Regions from separate parts of the Homo sapiens genome. Here region 2 is linked to region 1. Evidence: fine-mapped expression QTL. Tissue or cell type: coronary artery. Region 1 holds a variant in brackets; the other region holds the start of a gene. All regions are shown on one strand. Distances are from middle to middle.

Region 1 (8,107 bases):
ATTTTCAAATACCAAACTTTCTTACTTGACAACAATTCAACTTTTACTTAACTGTTTTGTGCCTTAGTTTCCCCATGTGGAATATGGGGATAACTTTAGTACCTACCTCATAGGAATAGTGTGAAGATTAAAGGAGTTAATATATGTAAAGTGCTTAGAACAATGCTGGGCACCTGCTTTACACAATTTTGCTCTTATTATGACTGTTATTGCTTTGTTTTTGTTTTTGAGATAGAGTCTTGCTCTGTCACCCAGGCTGGAGTTCAGTGGTGCGAACTTGGCTCACTGCAACCTCCACCCCCCAGGTTCAAGCGATTCTCCTGCCTTAGTCTCCCGAGTAGCTGGGACAAGAGGTGCAAGCCACCACACCTGGCTAATTTTTGTATTTTTAGTAGAGATGGGGTTTCACCATGTTGGCCAGGTTGGTCTCGAACTCCTGGCCTCAAGTGATCCAACCGCCTCAGCCTCCCAAAGTGCTGGGATTACAGGCAGGAGCCACTGCATCTGGCCCGACTGTTATTGTTTTATTGAAATGCTTTAAATTATTTTCACTTCATTCATGGGAGAATGGTTTAATGGATTTATCCTTTTCCTGCAGATTTTCTAAAACAGTCTCAAGAAAATGCTATATATACTATAGAAAGTGGATCACACACACACACACAGAGAGAGAGAGAGAAGGTTGTAAAGAAAGAAAAGGACATTTTTGGAATGGACTGAATGAATAGAAACATGTGCTTATGGTGATAATCCTGAGCTCTAACTCAGAGCACTTATTTTACAACACTGATTATGAAAGAGACCAAAGGTCAAAGATAAATCCGTCCTGCCTCACAACCAGACTGCACTGCTCACCTGACCCAGGGGCCACTGTGTGGTCACCAGGATTCTTCTCACAGCTTCCTTTGCTCTCGTAGTATTTCAAGGAACCCATGAGGTCCCAGCCTGATTACCCAACCCTATGACTTCACTCCCTAGGGAAAGAAGCTGCAGGGAGGAGAAAATTTACTGAGACCTTTAGAAGCAAAGGATCTCCTTTCACTTTCACAACTAAGTCCAGGGTTCAGGAGTCCATTTATTACAAAAATTGAGCTTCATAATGGCTTTATCCCAGAAGTGAAGATCAGGGGGTAAGGACGCTTGGGCTTCTGGGTAAAAGCGTGCTGTTTGCCAATTAGGGTAGAAAGCTAGGAGTTTGACCACTGAAATTGTAATCCCACTTCGGCTCCATGTTTCTTTGTCTTGGGTCATATCACATCCCGTCACTAGTTAGTGGCTCAGTTTGTCTACCAGGAAACCTGGAAATCAACTTTCCTTTTTAAGCTACAATATAATTCCTCAAATCTACTGTGGGCTGTGGTTCTTTTTGGAGTTTCTAGGGCTAGATAGATTGAATTAAGTTAAGCCTGCGTCTTCAGGTTAAACAATCGATACAACCAGGTAACAGTAATTTCTCTAAAACTACAGAATCAAGATCATAGCTCATTATTTTGACATCTTATATGCCAGATGTTGTGCTAAGCACTTTACATGGATTAACTGTCCCTATTGTCTCAACAGCCCTAAGAGGCAGGTATTATTATTCACTCCATTTCACAGCTATGAAACCGAAGCTTAGAGAGATGAGATAATGTCCTCTGAGCTATCTGACTCGGCAAAAGGTTTCAAAGAGAACTTCAAGGTGACCCTGTCCAACTATTTATTTTGGGTCATGAACTATATTAAAATATGAAAGCCGGCTAGTTTCAATACCAACTGACAAAATCCATTTGACAAATATTAAATAGAAATTATAATAACCTCAGTTGGATAAAAAAAGAGATAACAAAAGAAAAAATAAATTATAATAACCAAAGCACTGTTTGTAAAGTCCATTTTTAGAGTATGGGTTATTTTCTATTTTCAGCCAATTTAAGAATTATGGTCATTAAAAACTACTTGACCCTAAAGCTCTAGAGTTAAATTTGAATTTATTCACATTTCTTTGGCTTTTCCAAGACAGATCTTCCTTTTAAATGACGGCTCTTCACAAGGAATACTGAGCCTCTCTCTAAGGTTACAAGCCTGAGGCTGGGGTCATTAGGACTTTGCGTAAGGCCCATACCAACTAACAACCACAGGAGGAGTTGGTGTTGGCCGCACCCTTACCTCTAACCAGGGTTGGCTCTCAGAAAAATGCAGTGAGGCTGGGCACAGTGGCTCACGCCTGTAATCCCAGCACTTTGGGAAGCCTAGGCGGGCAGATCACCTGAGGTCAGGAGTTCGAGACCAGCCTGGCCAACGTGGTGAAACCCCGTCTTTGCTAAAAATACAAAAATTAGCTGAGTGTGGTAGCGGGCACCCGTAATCCCAGCTACTCAGGAGGCTGAGGCAGGAGAATCGCTTGAACCCGGGAGGCGGAGGCTGCAGTGAGCTGAGATCGCACCATTGCACTTCAGCCTGGGTGACAGAGTGAAACTCAGTCTCAAAAAAACTTTGGGAGGCCGAGGCAGGCAGATCACGAGGTCAGGAGATCGAGACCATCCTGGCTAACGTGGTGAAACCCCATCTCTACTAAAAATACAAAAAATTAGCCGGGCATGGTGGCAGGTGCCTGTAGTCCCAGTTACTTGGGAGGCTGAGGCAGGAGAATGGCGTGAACCCAGGAGGCGGAGCTTGCAGCGAGCTAAGATTGCGCCACTGCACTCCAGCCTGGGCGACAGAGCGAGACTCCGTCTCGAGAAAAAAAAAGAACAAAAGAAAAAGAAAAATGCAATGAGTTGGGCTTTGGGCTATTTTATCTGATTGCACCTTATATTGAGAGACAGTACTGTGCGCCTCATGTTCTGTTCCTCCTCCTGCACGTGATCTGCAGTTCCACTTGCCATTTCCTACCTATGTCATTCACTTTCATATTTCCAAGCTTGGCTGTACTATTGTTTTTCCCAGCATGCCCTTACCTGCCCCTCTGCCAGGGCATGATCCTTCAAGACCCAGCTCAGATTGCACCACCTCTGGGAGCCTTCCCAGACTCCACCTGCCCATACTCATTGCTCTCTCCTCTGTACTTCTAAAGTAATCTATCTCTGTCAGCTTCACAAAGGCAGATATTTTGTCTGTTTCATTCATGTGTCCCCAGTGTCTAGAACAGTGCCTGGCACATAGTAGATGTTCAAGAAATAGTTGTTAAGTGAATGAATTATAATGTTTATTTCATGGTATCACAACCAAGTATTTATTTGTCTGTCCTCATTAAGGGCTATGTCTCGTTTCTCTTTACATTCCTAAAACTGAGCATAGAACCTAACACATAGTGAATGTGTGGTAAATGTTTGCTGAAGGAGGAGATAAATGAGAAAATGGGCCAAGTGCAGTGGCTCACACCTGTCATCCCACCACTTTGGGAGGCCGAGGCGGGTGGGTCATTTGAGGTCAGGAG[T/A]TTGAGACTAGCTTGGCCAACATGGTGAAACACCGTAACTACTAAAAATACAAAAAATTAGCTGGGTGTGGTGGCACATGCCTGTAGTCCCAGCTACTCAGGAGGCTGAGGCCGGAGAATCGCTTGAGCCCGGGAGGTGGAAGTTGCAGTGAGCTGAGATCGCACCACTGCACTCCAGCCAGGGCGACAGAGACTCTATCTCTAAATAAATAAATAAATAAATAAATAAATAAATAAATAAATAAATAAAATAGCCAGGCACAGTGGCTCATGCCTATAATCCCAGCACTTTGGGAGGCCGAGGCAGTCGAATCACTTGAGATTGGGAGTTTGAGACCAGCCTGGCCAACATAGTGAAACCCAATCTCTACTAAAAATACAAAAATTAGCTAGGTGTGGTGGCGGGCACTGTAGTCCCAGCTACTCGGGAGGCTGAGGCAGGAGAATGGCTTGAACCCGGGAGGTGTAGGTTGCAGTGAGCCGAGATCGAGCCATTGCACTCCAGCCTGGGTGACAGAGAGAGACCCTGTCTCAAAAATAAATAAATAAATATCTGTATAACGAAATAAATAGAGAATGAATGAATGGCATGTTGTAGGGTTTGTGCATTGGTTATTGATTGGCATGAATGAATTTTGGCTCGATCCAGCCACTTGATACCTGGGAACAATTCTGTAGCAATAAATGTACAGGGCCTTTCTTTTTCATTTTCTTACATAATAATTCAGCAAATGTCCGGGGCCTTTTGACTTGCAGCTATTGTTTTTCCAGACCCTGGGCTTACAGGGAAGATCTGGATATTGCAGGGGTTGGGAAATCAACTGGTTCCTGTACTGCTGCTATGTTGTCCATGCTAGAGAACCAGAGAGGCGGGACCTTGGCACACACCCCTCCCCTCCTGAAATCTGTGTGAAAAACAGCTGACTCCACATCCAGGGCTTCTACCATACTGTGTTCATGGGATGCTGGCCTGTGCCACACATGTGCTGGCCATCTTGTCATGAGCCCCTAACACAGAGCCCTCCACATAGTAATTGCCTGATGGATGTCTGGTTGTGATGATGACAATATTGAACAGTGGCTGTCACACAACATGACTCAGGCCACTCCAAGGGGAGAGGAACAGACATGTTCCTGGGGCACCTGAGGACGCTGCCGATAGAGCTGTGCCAACTGCACGCCCATGTGACTGATTAGGGCTGATTAGGCCAGACCTGCTCCCAGACCTGGGCCTAATGTTCCCAGCTTCTAAGACTATTTCAGCCACTAAAAGCCCATGAGAACCCTTGAGTGAATGTGGCCCTTTTTGACGTGCTCAGGAAGCAGGCAGAGTTTGTTCTCTCTCACTTGTGAGTGGGAGGCCTCCAGGAGTGCAGCAGCGGACTTGCTCAGTAGTAACATCCATTGTCATTTCTTGAGCTTTGACTATGGGCCAGGCACTCTTTTAATTGTGGATACTCATTTAATCCTTTCAGTGGCCTTATGATGCAGGTGCTAAGATTACCATTTCCCAGATGAGGAAACCGAGGCACCTGGCAAACCACGTGTAACACCTGCAGATGAAAACCCTGAAAACAAAGGGAACCCCCCCCCAACTTAGAGAGAGTCAGAAAGTAGCACTTAATGCTGCGGTGCCTGGAAAATAACCACGGAGGCCCAGAGGAAGGGAGGGGTTCAAGCTCTTTAGGGACCATCGGCCTGCTTGGGGACCTACCCATGTGAGGAGCCCCTGGAGAGGCGCTTGGTGCAGTGGTTAAGAGCATGGTTCCGCCCCTTTCCAGCTGTGAAATGGTGAGCAAGATTCTAAGTCTCACTGCCTCACCTTGCTCAGCCGGAAAATGGGGTCAAGAACACTACTTGCCTGGCACTGTAGTGAGGATGAAATAAATTAATATTTGCGAGGCGCTTGGCACAAAGCCTAGCATATAATATGCGCTTAAGTGTTTGTTAAATAACTACGGGCTCTCTCAGAGTCGGCCCCTTCCCTTTAGGCGCCGGTTTTGTAATCTGGGAAACTTTGTAAAGAGCGCTCTCAGCGCGGTGGCTAAAACAGTCCGCTAGGACTATGCCGAGTAGCAGCAGAAGGAAATGGCCCGGCCCGCCAGGCGGGGAGCTGCAGACAACTAGGAGAGAGGAGGGCAGGGCACGCCCTGAGGGAAAAAACGCGGCTTTTGCAGGCCTAATGGCGGTTGAAAGTCGCCGAAGTGCAAGGCTGGATTGAGACAGACAGGCTGAAAAAGTCGCAGCGCAGCCGCAGCGGCAGCAGCCGATGGCCGACTCCTTCCTTTTCCAGTCCACGTGCCCAGGCGGGTCTCCGGCCGCCTCTCGCACCTGCCTGCAGAGGGCGCGCTGCTTCTCGCCTCGGCCTGGGCACCGCGGCCGACTCCGCTGGAAGAGCTGTGTCCTCCACGCAGACCGCTTTCCACCAAGCTCAGCTAAACCCACCGCCCCCAAGAAGTCTACCCTGGCCGCTCCAGCCAAGCTCTTCCTCCCCTGAACCCCCAAAGCATCATCAGCACTGCATAATTTAGAACTTGGATATGTGCTGGCTGGTCACTGTGTCCTACGTATGGGACAAATCTTGGCTCAACAATATCATACTTTGCATTTCTCCCCCGAGTCACACACGGCCATTGGCATACCGGCAGCCACATAGCGTGTGCCCAGCAAACACCTGGTGTACCTCTACTGGGTCTCACTGTATTGGCTCCCAAAGGAGACTCTCAGGATCCCTGATGTCGCCAAGCCCTGGGGTGGCAGAAGGGACACCTGGGAGGATGCCTGCATGGCCTCAGTTGCCACTTCGAGCCTTCACTGACCAAATGAGGTCGGTGTAGCCCACCTCAGAAGGCAATGCCTTCGTGCAAAGGAAACCCTCTGCCAGGGAATCCATTGATATGGAAATATTTGCTGAGCCCCAGCTTTGGTGCAGAGCCCTGTGCTGGGCACCAGGGACACAGTGAGGAATAGAAAGGATTCTTGTGGTGATGGGAGGCAGTGTAGAAAAATTAGAATAGCAAGAGATTTAAAGTCAGGCTGGGCGCGGTGGCTCACGCCGGTAATCCCAACACTTTGGGAGGCCAAGGTGGGTGGATTATTTGAGGTCTGGAGTTCGAGACCAGCTTGACCAACAAGGTAAAATCCTGTCTCTACTAAAAAAAAAAAAAAAAAAAAAAAAATTAGCAGGGCGTGGTGGCGCATGCCTGTAGTCTCAGCTACTTGGGAGGCTGAGGCAGGAGAATTGCTTGAACCCCGGGAAGTGGAGGTTGCAGTAAGCCAAGATTGCACCACTGCACTCCAGCCTGGGCGACTGAGTGAGACTCCGTCTCAAAAAAGAAAAAAAACAGAGAGAGATTTAGAATCAGAAAATCCCCCACAGGCACTAGCTGTGTGGCCTTGGGCACACCATGTCACTTCTTTGAGTCTCAGTTTCCTCTTCTGTATCTCTGAGGGAGTCTGGAGTAGGGTAGCGGTGGTCAGATCTACAATGATAGCCAGATTTATAATGTTTTAATGTTCATGAGAACATACTTATCCATGAAGTAAGTAATTTAAATTACATTTTTAACAGTACACATTTTTTTTTTTTTTTTTTAGATAGAATCTCGCTCTGTTGCCCAGGCTGGAGTGCAGTGGTGCCATCTCGGCTCACTGCAACCTCCACCTTCTGGGTTCAAGCGATTCTCCAGCCTCAGCCTCATGAGTAGCTGGGATTACAGGCGCTCACCACCACACCCAGCTAATTTTGTATTTTTAGTAGAGATGGGGTTTCACCAGGTTGGCCAGGATGGCCTCGAACTCCTGACCTCAAGTGATCCACCTACCTCAGCCTCCCAAAGTGCTGGGATTACAGGCATGAGCCACTGCACCCAGCTTTATTCCTTCGATTTAGCTGTAACTTTGTAACCAACCTCTCCCTATCCTCCCCTCCCCTCTACCTTTCCCAGCCTCTAATAATCATAATTCTACTCTCTACTTCTATGAGCTCAGGAGTTTTTTTTAGCTCCCACATATAAGTGAGAACATGCAGAACATGCCTGACTTATTTCACTTAACATAATGTCCTCCAGGCTCATCCATCTTGTCATGAATGACAAGATCTCATTCTTTTTTATGGCTGAATAATATTCTGCTGTGTCTGTGTGACATTTTCTCTATCCATTCATCCATTGATGGACACTAAGATAGATTCCATATCTTAGCTATTGTAAATAGTGCTGCAATAAACATGGGGAGGCAGGTATCTCAATACACTGATTTCCTTTTTGGGGGTATATATCCAGTAGTGAGTGGAATTGCTGGATCATATGGTAGTCCTATTTGTAGTTTGTTTTTTTTTTTTTAAGAAACCTTCATACCATTTTCCATAATGGCTGTACTGATTTACATTCTCATCAACAATGTACAAGTCCCCTTTTCTCTGCATCCTCCCTAGCATTTTTTTTTTTTTGTCTTTTTGACAATAGCTATTCTAGCTGGGGTATACATTATATTTTTTTAAATTGAAGCATAAAATGGAAGTGATGGTGTTTTGTGAAAACCAAATGATAAAATAGTTATGAAAGCTGTTGTAACTGAAAGAGGCACCACAAAGTTTCATTATGTTTACCACTGCTAAAATATATAGGAGGCACCCAGTTAATGTTTCTTGAGGAGAATGGAAATGTTTCCTGAGTGATAGGATCCATA
Region 2 (8,107 bases), 82 kb before region 1:
AATTAGCCATTTGCCGGGTGTGGTGGTGGGCGCCTATAACCCCAGCTACTCAGGAGGCTGAGGCAGGAGAATCGCTGGAACTCAGGAGGCAGAGGTTGCAGTAAACCGAGATCGCGCCACTGCACTCCAGCCTGCACAACAGAGTGAGACTCCATCTAAAAAAAAAAAAAAAAAAAAAAAAAAAAAGTTGCCAAGGAAATAAAGATGTGTCATTAAAAGGAAAAAAATCTCACCAATGGCAAGGCAATGTCACAGAAAACACTGCACCTTCAGAGAAAATTGATGGAGAAGAGAATTTTTTAAATTGATGATACATGGCCACGGCAAAACAAAACAAAACAACAACAAAAAAAAAAAACAGGAGAAAAAGGTAAACAGTATAAAAAGGCACACAGGGTTGGGTGCGGTGGCTCACGCCTGTAATCCTGGCACCTTGGGAGGCCAAAGGGGGCAGATCACTTGAGGTCAGTAGTTTGAGACCAGCCTGGCCAACATGGTGAAATTCCGTCTGTACTAAAAATACAAAAATTAGGGCCGGGCACGGTGGCTCATGCCTGTAATCCCAGCACTTTGGGAGGCCAAGGCAGGTGGATCACGAGGTCGGGAGATAGAGACCCTCCTGGCTAACACGGTGAAACCCCGTCTTTACTAAAAATGCAAAAAAATTAGCCAGGTGCGGTGGCGGGCGTCTGTAGTCCCAGCTACTCTGAAGGCTGAGGCAGGACAATGGCATGAACCTGTGAGGCGGAGCTTGCAGTGAGCCAAGATTGCGCCACTGCACTCCAGCCTGGGTGACAGAGCAAGACTCCGTCTCAAAAAAAAAAAAAAAAAAAAATTAGATTGGTGAGGTGGTGGCTGCTTGTAGTCCCAGCTACTGGGGAGGCATGAGAATTGCTTGAACCTGGGAGGCAGAGGTTGCAGTGAGCTGAGATCGTGCCACTGTACTCCAGCCTGGGCAACAGAGCGAGACTCTGTCTCAAAACTAACTAAATAAATCAATAAATAATAAAAGAAAATAAAAGGGCACACAGTCAAAACTCAATCTCCCTTCCACCTCTGTTCCCAAGTCTCCAGGTTTCCTTCCCCAAAGATAACCTGATTATCAGTTTTTTGGGTATCCTTCCAGAGGAATTATTTCTTTTCTGTTTCAAAGGAAGGAAAGAAGGAAGGTAAGAAGGAGGGAAGAGCGGAAAGGAGGAGAAAGCAACCCCATATAAATATTTATTGGTCTGAGCATGAAAAAAAAATATGAGGAAAAACATTCACACACGCACCAAGCTCTTAACCGTGGTTACCTCAGGGCATGGGCAGGGGAACTTAACTTTCTTTAATACACTTCTGGACTATTTGTCTTGTTACAACAGGTATAAACTACTTTATAATTTACAAATTTCCCAAAAAGTAAAAAATAAAAGAAAATTAGGAGAGCAGGAATCAATCAACATTAGTATAAATATAACAAGATAAATTATATTCTAAGAAATACTAGCAAGTTAAACTAAAGTAATGTACTGAGAGATTTCAGTTGGTGAGAAGATAAACTGAAAAATGAAAGCTGGAGAATTTAAAAAACTGTTAGCATCTCCCAAGCCCTGACTGGGGCAACGAGAGGCTGCCTAGGGCTTAACTCTCAGCTGGCCACCTTTCTCCTTATATTGCAACATAACTTCTAAGATTTTTTTTTTTACTCACTGCCTCTTCCTTTTTAGTTATCATACATTTATTTTTAGCATAGCACCCCAATTTCACATCATGTACATTTTCCAAAGTTGGAGCTTGTTAACCTACTATGCTCTCCACAGACTTTTCAACAAGTGTGAAAAAGAGGCAATAAGGTTGGCTTGAGTATACAAGTCACAATCCAAATACAGGATATCCTCGGAGATTTATTTATGTTTAGGATGAATATACATAAGGTGCCCAATGCTAAGCAGATGAATGAGACTCTGGCTGAGTAAAATATGAACACCTGGTTAGCACATGATCATGAAAAGACAGAAGGCATCCAATATATAGTTTGGTGTTATTCATTTTATGCTTCAGTGTACCTGCAGTGAAAAATATACATTTTACTTTCTTTTTTTTTGAGACGGAGTCTCGCTGTCACCCAGGCTGGAGTGCAGTGGCGTGATCTCGGCTCACTGCAGGCTCCGCCCTCCAGGGTTCACGCCATTCTCCTGCCTCAGCCTCCCAAGTAGGTGGGACTACAGGCGCCCGCCACCTCGCCCGGCTAATTTTTTGTATTTTCAGTAGAGACGGGGTTTCACCGTGTTAGCCAGGATGGTCTCGATCTCCTGACCTCGTGATCCGCCCGCCTCAGCCTCCCAAAGTGCTGGGATTATAGGCGTGAGCCACCGCGCCCGGCCATACATTTTACTTTCAAGGTTAAAATAGGCCAGGCGCGGTGGCTCATGCCTGTAATTTCGGCACTTTGGGAGGCCGAGGCAGGTGGATCATCTGAGGTCAGGAATTCGAGACCAGCCTGGCCAACATGGCGAACCCCATCTCTACTGAAAATACAAAAAAATTAGTTGGGTATGGTGGCACATGCCTGTAGTCCCAGCTACTTAGGAGGCTGAGGCAGGAGAATCGCTTGAACCTAGGAGGCAGAGGTTACAGTGAGCCAAGACCATGCCACTGCACTTCACCCTGGGCGACAGAGCGAGACTCTGTCTCAAAAAAAAAAAAAACATAACTTGGCTGACCCAATCTCCATACAATGGGGTTATCACATGAAATGTTCCAGACCCACGAACTTCCTGAAAGAGCTTTAGAATCTTGTCCCGTTATCCAACAAAGGGCTTTAGGAAGTACCAGTACCCGAAGGTTTCCTTATTGTAATCCCCAAATTCCAATTCAAGCCCTTTTAAAGTCGGGGTCCTCCGGTCTTCAGAGTCATACATCTTTCTCAAGCTTCCCCCAGCCATCAAATTAGCTTACAACAAGACAGAAGAATTCACAAAACATGAAAATAAGCATTCCCCAATTGTTGAGAGCAGAGTATGGCTTCTGCAACTAGAACAAGTTCTCACAGTCAAAACCTTGTAATGTCATACTCAAGTGAGATTGACAGTGAAAAATAAAAAAGGAGAAACCCTGCAATGCCTTTTAGAAAACGTTCCTATAGCATTGTGTGTTAGTAAATGTAAATAACTATACAAGCCTAAAAACAACTATGTACCCGGAACATCTTGCTCACACCAACAGACTGCTGACAGTTCCTTTCCTTGTAATTATTAGTGACATGGCTTTTTTAGAAAAAAAAGAGACAGAAAGAAATTCTGAAATTCTGAAATTTTTGAACTGATTAAAGAATCCTCGGATTCTGGCCAAGCCTCTCTTAGCCATTCTTTGCCTCTATTGTTCTCTTAGCTTACAGAACCACTGAAAATGTCCCTACTGGAGTTAACTCTGCAGTCCTAGTAGACATATAGTGTAGCCGTTAGTGGAAACTGACATAAACCGCCCTAGATTTCAAACCGGTCTCTGCTTTGTAGGTAGCTGTGTGAGCCTGAGCAAGTCCTCTCTGTGTCTTGGTTTCCTCTCCTGTAAATGAATACCTAATCAGAACTAACACATATAAACTGCTTACCCATACCAGTCATTGTTCATTAATCCTTACAACAACCCCTAGGAGGAAAAAATTATAATCTCTGTTTTATAAAGCAACTGACACACAGAGAGGTTGAGTGACTTCCCCAAGGTCCCACAGCTGGTAAGCTGCAGAGCCAAGAATCTTACACAGGTTCAAGAGTCCAGATTCAAGTCCCCACACCCACACAGCCTCTGTCAATGAGGACATACGTACTTAGGGCCGTTTTGAGGATTACATGAGAACGTCTGTAAAGCCCAGTACTTGACAAGTGCCTGAGAGATAGCAACTGTGGTTGTTAGAATTTTTTACCTTCTGCACTGGGAAACCATCAAGGCTTTTTGGTTAGGCAGGAAAAAAAAATGGGTTGGAGGCAAGAGGAGGAGGAGGGAAGCGCCAGGGGAGGAAGACAGAGAAGTGGCACGTGAAAGGGAGAAAAGGGGCAAACCAGAGGAGAGGCAGGGAGGGGCGGCGGGGGCGCACTGAACATTTAGGAAGCAAGATGTCTAGCAGGCTGGGCCTTGAGAGAACAGTAACTGTTTCGCAACTGAAAGTCGCTACTCGAGCCTTGCCAACTGGGGAGACTATGCCCATGATATCCGCGGCCTCGGACCCCGGACCCTCCAGGCCCTCGCGCCCCACCCCCGACCAGCCTCGGGCCAGGCTAGGGCGTAGACGGGGCTTCCCGTCCCTCACGCGGGCCCGCCCCATGCCGGGCGGGGCCTGGGGCCCGCCACCTCCGCCCGTGGCCGGAGAGCCCCAGGCCCGAGCCACGCGGTCTTCCGGGCCCGGGTCGGGGCTCGATGGCTACGTGGAGGCGGGACGGCCGACTGACAGGCGGCCAAAGGCTGCTGTGCGCTGGGCTGGCGGGGACGCTCAGCCTCAGCCTCACCGCGCCCCTGGAGCTCGCCACCGTGCTGGCCCAGGTTGGCGTCGTGCGAGGCCACGCCCGGGGACCGTGGGCCACAGGGCACCGGGTGTGGCGGGCAGAGGGGCTCCGGGCCCTGTGGAAGGGGAACGCGGTGGCGTGCCTGCGCCTCTTCCCCTGCAGCGCCGTGCAGCTCGCCGCCTACCGCAAGTAAGAGCCGGGCGGGGCCGGGGAACCGGGAGACCGGACGGGGGTGGGGTGGGGGAGCCGCGGCCCGACGCCGCCCTGCTGCCTGGACTCGGGGCCCTGGAGTAGGGACGGCCCCCTTGTCGATCACCTGGGGACCCCTCGGGGCGGTGGGCCACCTCTATGGCCCCCAGAGTGCAGCCCCAATGCTTTTCACGTTCTCTTGGGGTTACCGCCCTGCAAGATGCAGTTTTGTGGTCCGCAGCCCTGGTCCGAGAGGCTTTCCGGATTGGACCGGGCGAGGAGGTGGAATGCAGCAAAGGATTTGGAGGAAAGGAATGAAAAGCTCTCCAGAGAGATGAGTCCTAACCATTTCCACCGTCCTCCAATTTGGAAACTTTTGCTTAGGCTGGCTTAGGAAGAGAGAGACCCTTTTAAAGGTGTTTTTGTCTGTGTGACCCAAGCCCCGAGAAGAAAGTGCTTGGTGTGGGGAAAGGACCCGATCCATCGATACGAAAAGGCCGCAGATTTTTGCCCACACATCTCCCCAACTTAAATGAAGCTTGACTTCAGGCTCCGACAGAGGCTGCAGCTTCCCCTCCCCAAGCTGAGAACGGCCCCCTCAGCCTACCGCTTCACCCCACTGGCCTCATTTATTTGGGCCTTTTCCACCTTCTCCCACATCAACAGCTGCTCCTTAGGAAAAGATCTAAAGGTGTAAATGCAGCCTTAAAGCTTCCACCGAGCTCAGAGGTACCTGCATTTGAACTGGAAACCAAGCCTGAAAGAATGAATTGGTAGTGATGGCATTTCAGGAAGCAGAGATGTTTCTGTATTGGGGGGACGGTCCCTGTGTTCCTCATTCAGTGGGCACAGTGGCATCTTTGATATCGCCTTGGCTCTGAATTAGACAAACAGCCCACATTTGGGAGAGTCGGTCTTGACCGCATAGTTTAGTCTTGGCGGCTAATAGTCAAAGGATTTTGCCTTGACACTGTCACTCACCTGGGAGGCCAGAGGTGGAAGGCTCACCTGGCAGCCGACAAGCCGAACGGAATCATCCTTATTACCTAGGCCTCTAGGCCAGTACTCATTTTGCCTCTGCCTGGAAATAGAGTTCCCTTCTCTTCCTCTGCAGAGGGACTCATGGGTGGGACCATGACATTTAGTTAAGGCCCTTTTTCCTCCCCACCTCTGCTTGCCCTCATCAACATCTGGCCTGCAGTCTGTAAACAGTTCTCCTCTGAGTCTTAATGACTCAGTTTCTCCCCCACTTCACCCTCTTCTCTACAAAGTAGTGTGGAAATCTTCCTTTGGATGGGATAAAATATGTCCAGAGGGGTGGGGGGCAGAACTTCAAAGGCTGGTTTAAGTATTGTGGCTCTTCTGCTAAGCACCTAGTATATGCACATTAGATTTTTTAAGCTCCTGCCTCCTGCCCTGTAAGGTCCATAGGACAGGAAGCATTGTGCCTGTTTTACAGATGCAGAATTGGGCTCAGAGTGATGACACCTCTTGTCAGTGACCGAGCTGAGCTCCACTACCTGGCCTTCTGACTCCAAATCTCATAGTCTTTCTGTTACATCATGCTGCCTCCCTGCATCCATTTGACACTAATTTAGTCAGGCTACATTAAGTCCCCACTGTGTGCACGATGCTGAGGACAATGCCAGGATGGAAGGGGCATGGTCCCTGTGCCCCAGGAGCTTACAGAGTAATAGAAGAGTAAGACTAATATGTCCATGACCATAACACACAAGGTAGCATGTGATTGTCATGGATAATGTGCTCTAGAAATGTACCCTTCTGATGAGCGATGAGGAGGAGAAAATGTGAAGACTTCATAGAGGAGAAAAAAATTTGAGTTTGGCATTGGGAGAATGAGGAGTCTGCTGGGCAGAGATGGAGAGAAAGATACTGCAGTTGATGTCAGCAAATGCACAGAGGTGGGAAGGCAAGCAGCACAACAGGAAGTCCAACCAGAAAAGCAGGTTGGAATGAGATATTAGAGGGTTGGATTAAGGGATTTGGACTTGACTTGGTATCCAAGGGTAGCTGTGGGAGGTTTTTGTGGGGGGTGGGGGGAGGTGTGTTGTGATTAAAGCAATTCAATGGAAATGATCGTCACATCGTGGCAGAGTAAGATGACTAGAGAGGAGGAAGAGTGGAGACAGCAGGGCCAGTTAGGAACCTGTTGCACTAGTCCACATAGCAGCTGAGGGCACCGGCAATAGGTGACCATGGGAGCAGAGAGGAGGAGATGTCTGGGAGAACGAGAACAGAGACTTACCTGGGCTAGGTTTGCTAGGAATTTTTTTTCCCCTACAGGATTATTTTCTTTCTGAAAACTAAAAGGAAGTATTTTGGTGAATGGCAAGGCATAGTTGGAAAGCAAAGTGTTTGATTAATCGCGATGCCATCCTTCCTACATCAACATGATACTCTTGATTCATCATTATACTGATTCATTTCTACTCTTTTCTGACCATGAATTTGCAAAACAGTTGGCTGGGGGCCTGTGATCATGGGTTTGAACAAAACATAAACATCCAGAATGTTCAGGGAATGGGGTAGTTAAGTGACTTGTCCACAAATGCAATTAATGGAAGAGCTGGAACTTGAAGCCAAGTCTTCTGGCTCCTTAGTTCAGGTCTCTGTCTACCATTGCACAGCAGAAATATCTGCTTAGTTGGATTGACGATCAAGAGTCCACTCAGTAGTCTGTTGGGAGCTAGGTTATTGTAATGGGTGGCTTTCAGATGTATCAAATAGAAGACCCCCCCGCCCTGGAACTTCACAACCGCTTGTCTATCTTATCTAATAAACGTTAGTTTGGGTCCCTGCAGCTCTGAAATTGTTCATAACCAACACTATTTCTTTATTGAATAAGCACTTCATGAGCTTATGTTTGGCTGCACTGGCTGCCAACCTGTTAGGTTGAAGTATTGGCAGTTATAATTACACATATCCAGGGTGTGTGTTGTATCTGTGCTGGCTGAAAGGAAGGGGTTGCTGCAATTCACCAGTGTATCCAGTCTCACTGGAAAAAGCTTCTGTGCATGTATGTGTGGGGGTGGGAGGAAGAACAGAAAAGGGAACAGTGCCGCCCTAGCAAATCAAAAGTTTAAGATGCATGGACTGAGATGACATCATTGGCGGATTATCAGGGTTGCCTGCCCTGACTCTGAGATTCTAAGGGGAACAATTGATAGGACTTATCTCTGTATCAGATGGGAGAAGTCTGCGAAAAAAGGACTTCCTATGGTTCTTCTTTTTAATTGTGTATATTTGATATTGAGACTCTATAAAAGAAACTGATATAAAATACGGCTCCTCTTCCTAGTTCATCAAGTCATTCAGTGAATTAAGGGCCTGTTTCCTCTCCGCTTGCCCCTACCAGTCATTTCCTTGTCAGAAGTGTTGAACTCCCTTAGGCTCTATGCTGAGGACTAACACAGGGT

What was found. PIP is the estimated chance that this variant, and not a neighbour inherited with it, causes the effect.
Region 2: it holds the start of SLC25A43, and the variant in region 1 is fine-mapped to the expression of SLC25A43 in coronary artery (GTEx, PIP 0.93).

What each region holds. Positions count from the first base shown.
Region 1 is chrX:119,477,088-119,485,194 of GRCh38, forward strand. No RefSeq gene overlaps it. Among named protein-coding and RNA genes, the nearest start is that of SLC25A5-AS1, 12 kb to the left of the region's middle. RefSeq lists enhancers at 5,441-5,540, 5,591-5,640. The variant T/A (reference allele first, on the strand shown) is at 3,419.
Region 2 is chrX:119,395,009-119,403,115 of GRCh38, forward strand. It overlaps SLC25A43 (solute carrier family 25 member 43), which reads left to right and starts at 4,328. Exons shown (of 5, transcript NM_145305.3): 1 at 4,328-4,670. The coding sequence starts at 4,396. RefSeq lists a silencer at 4,192-4,851.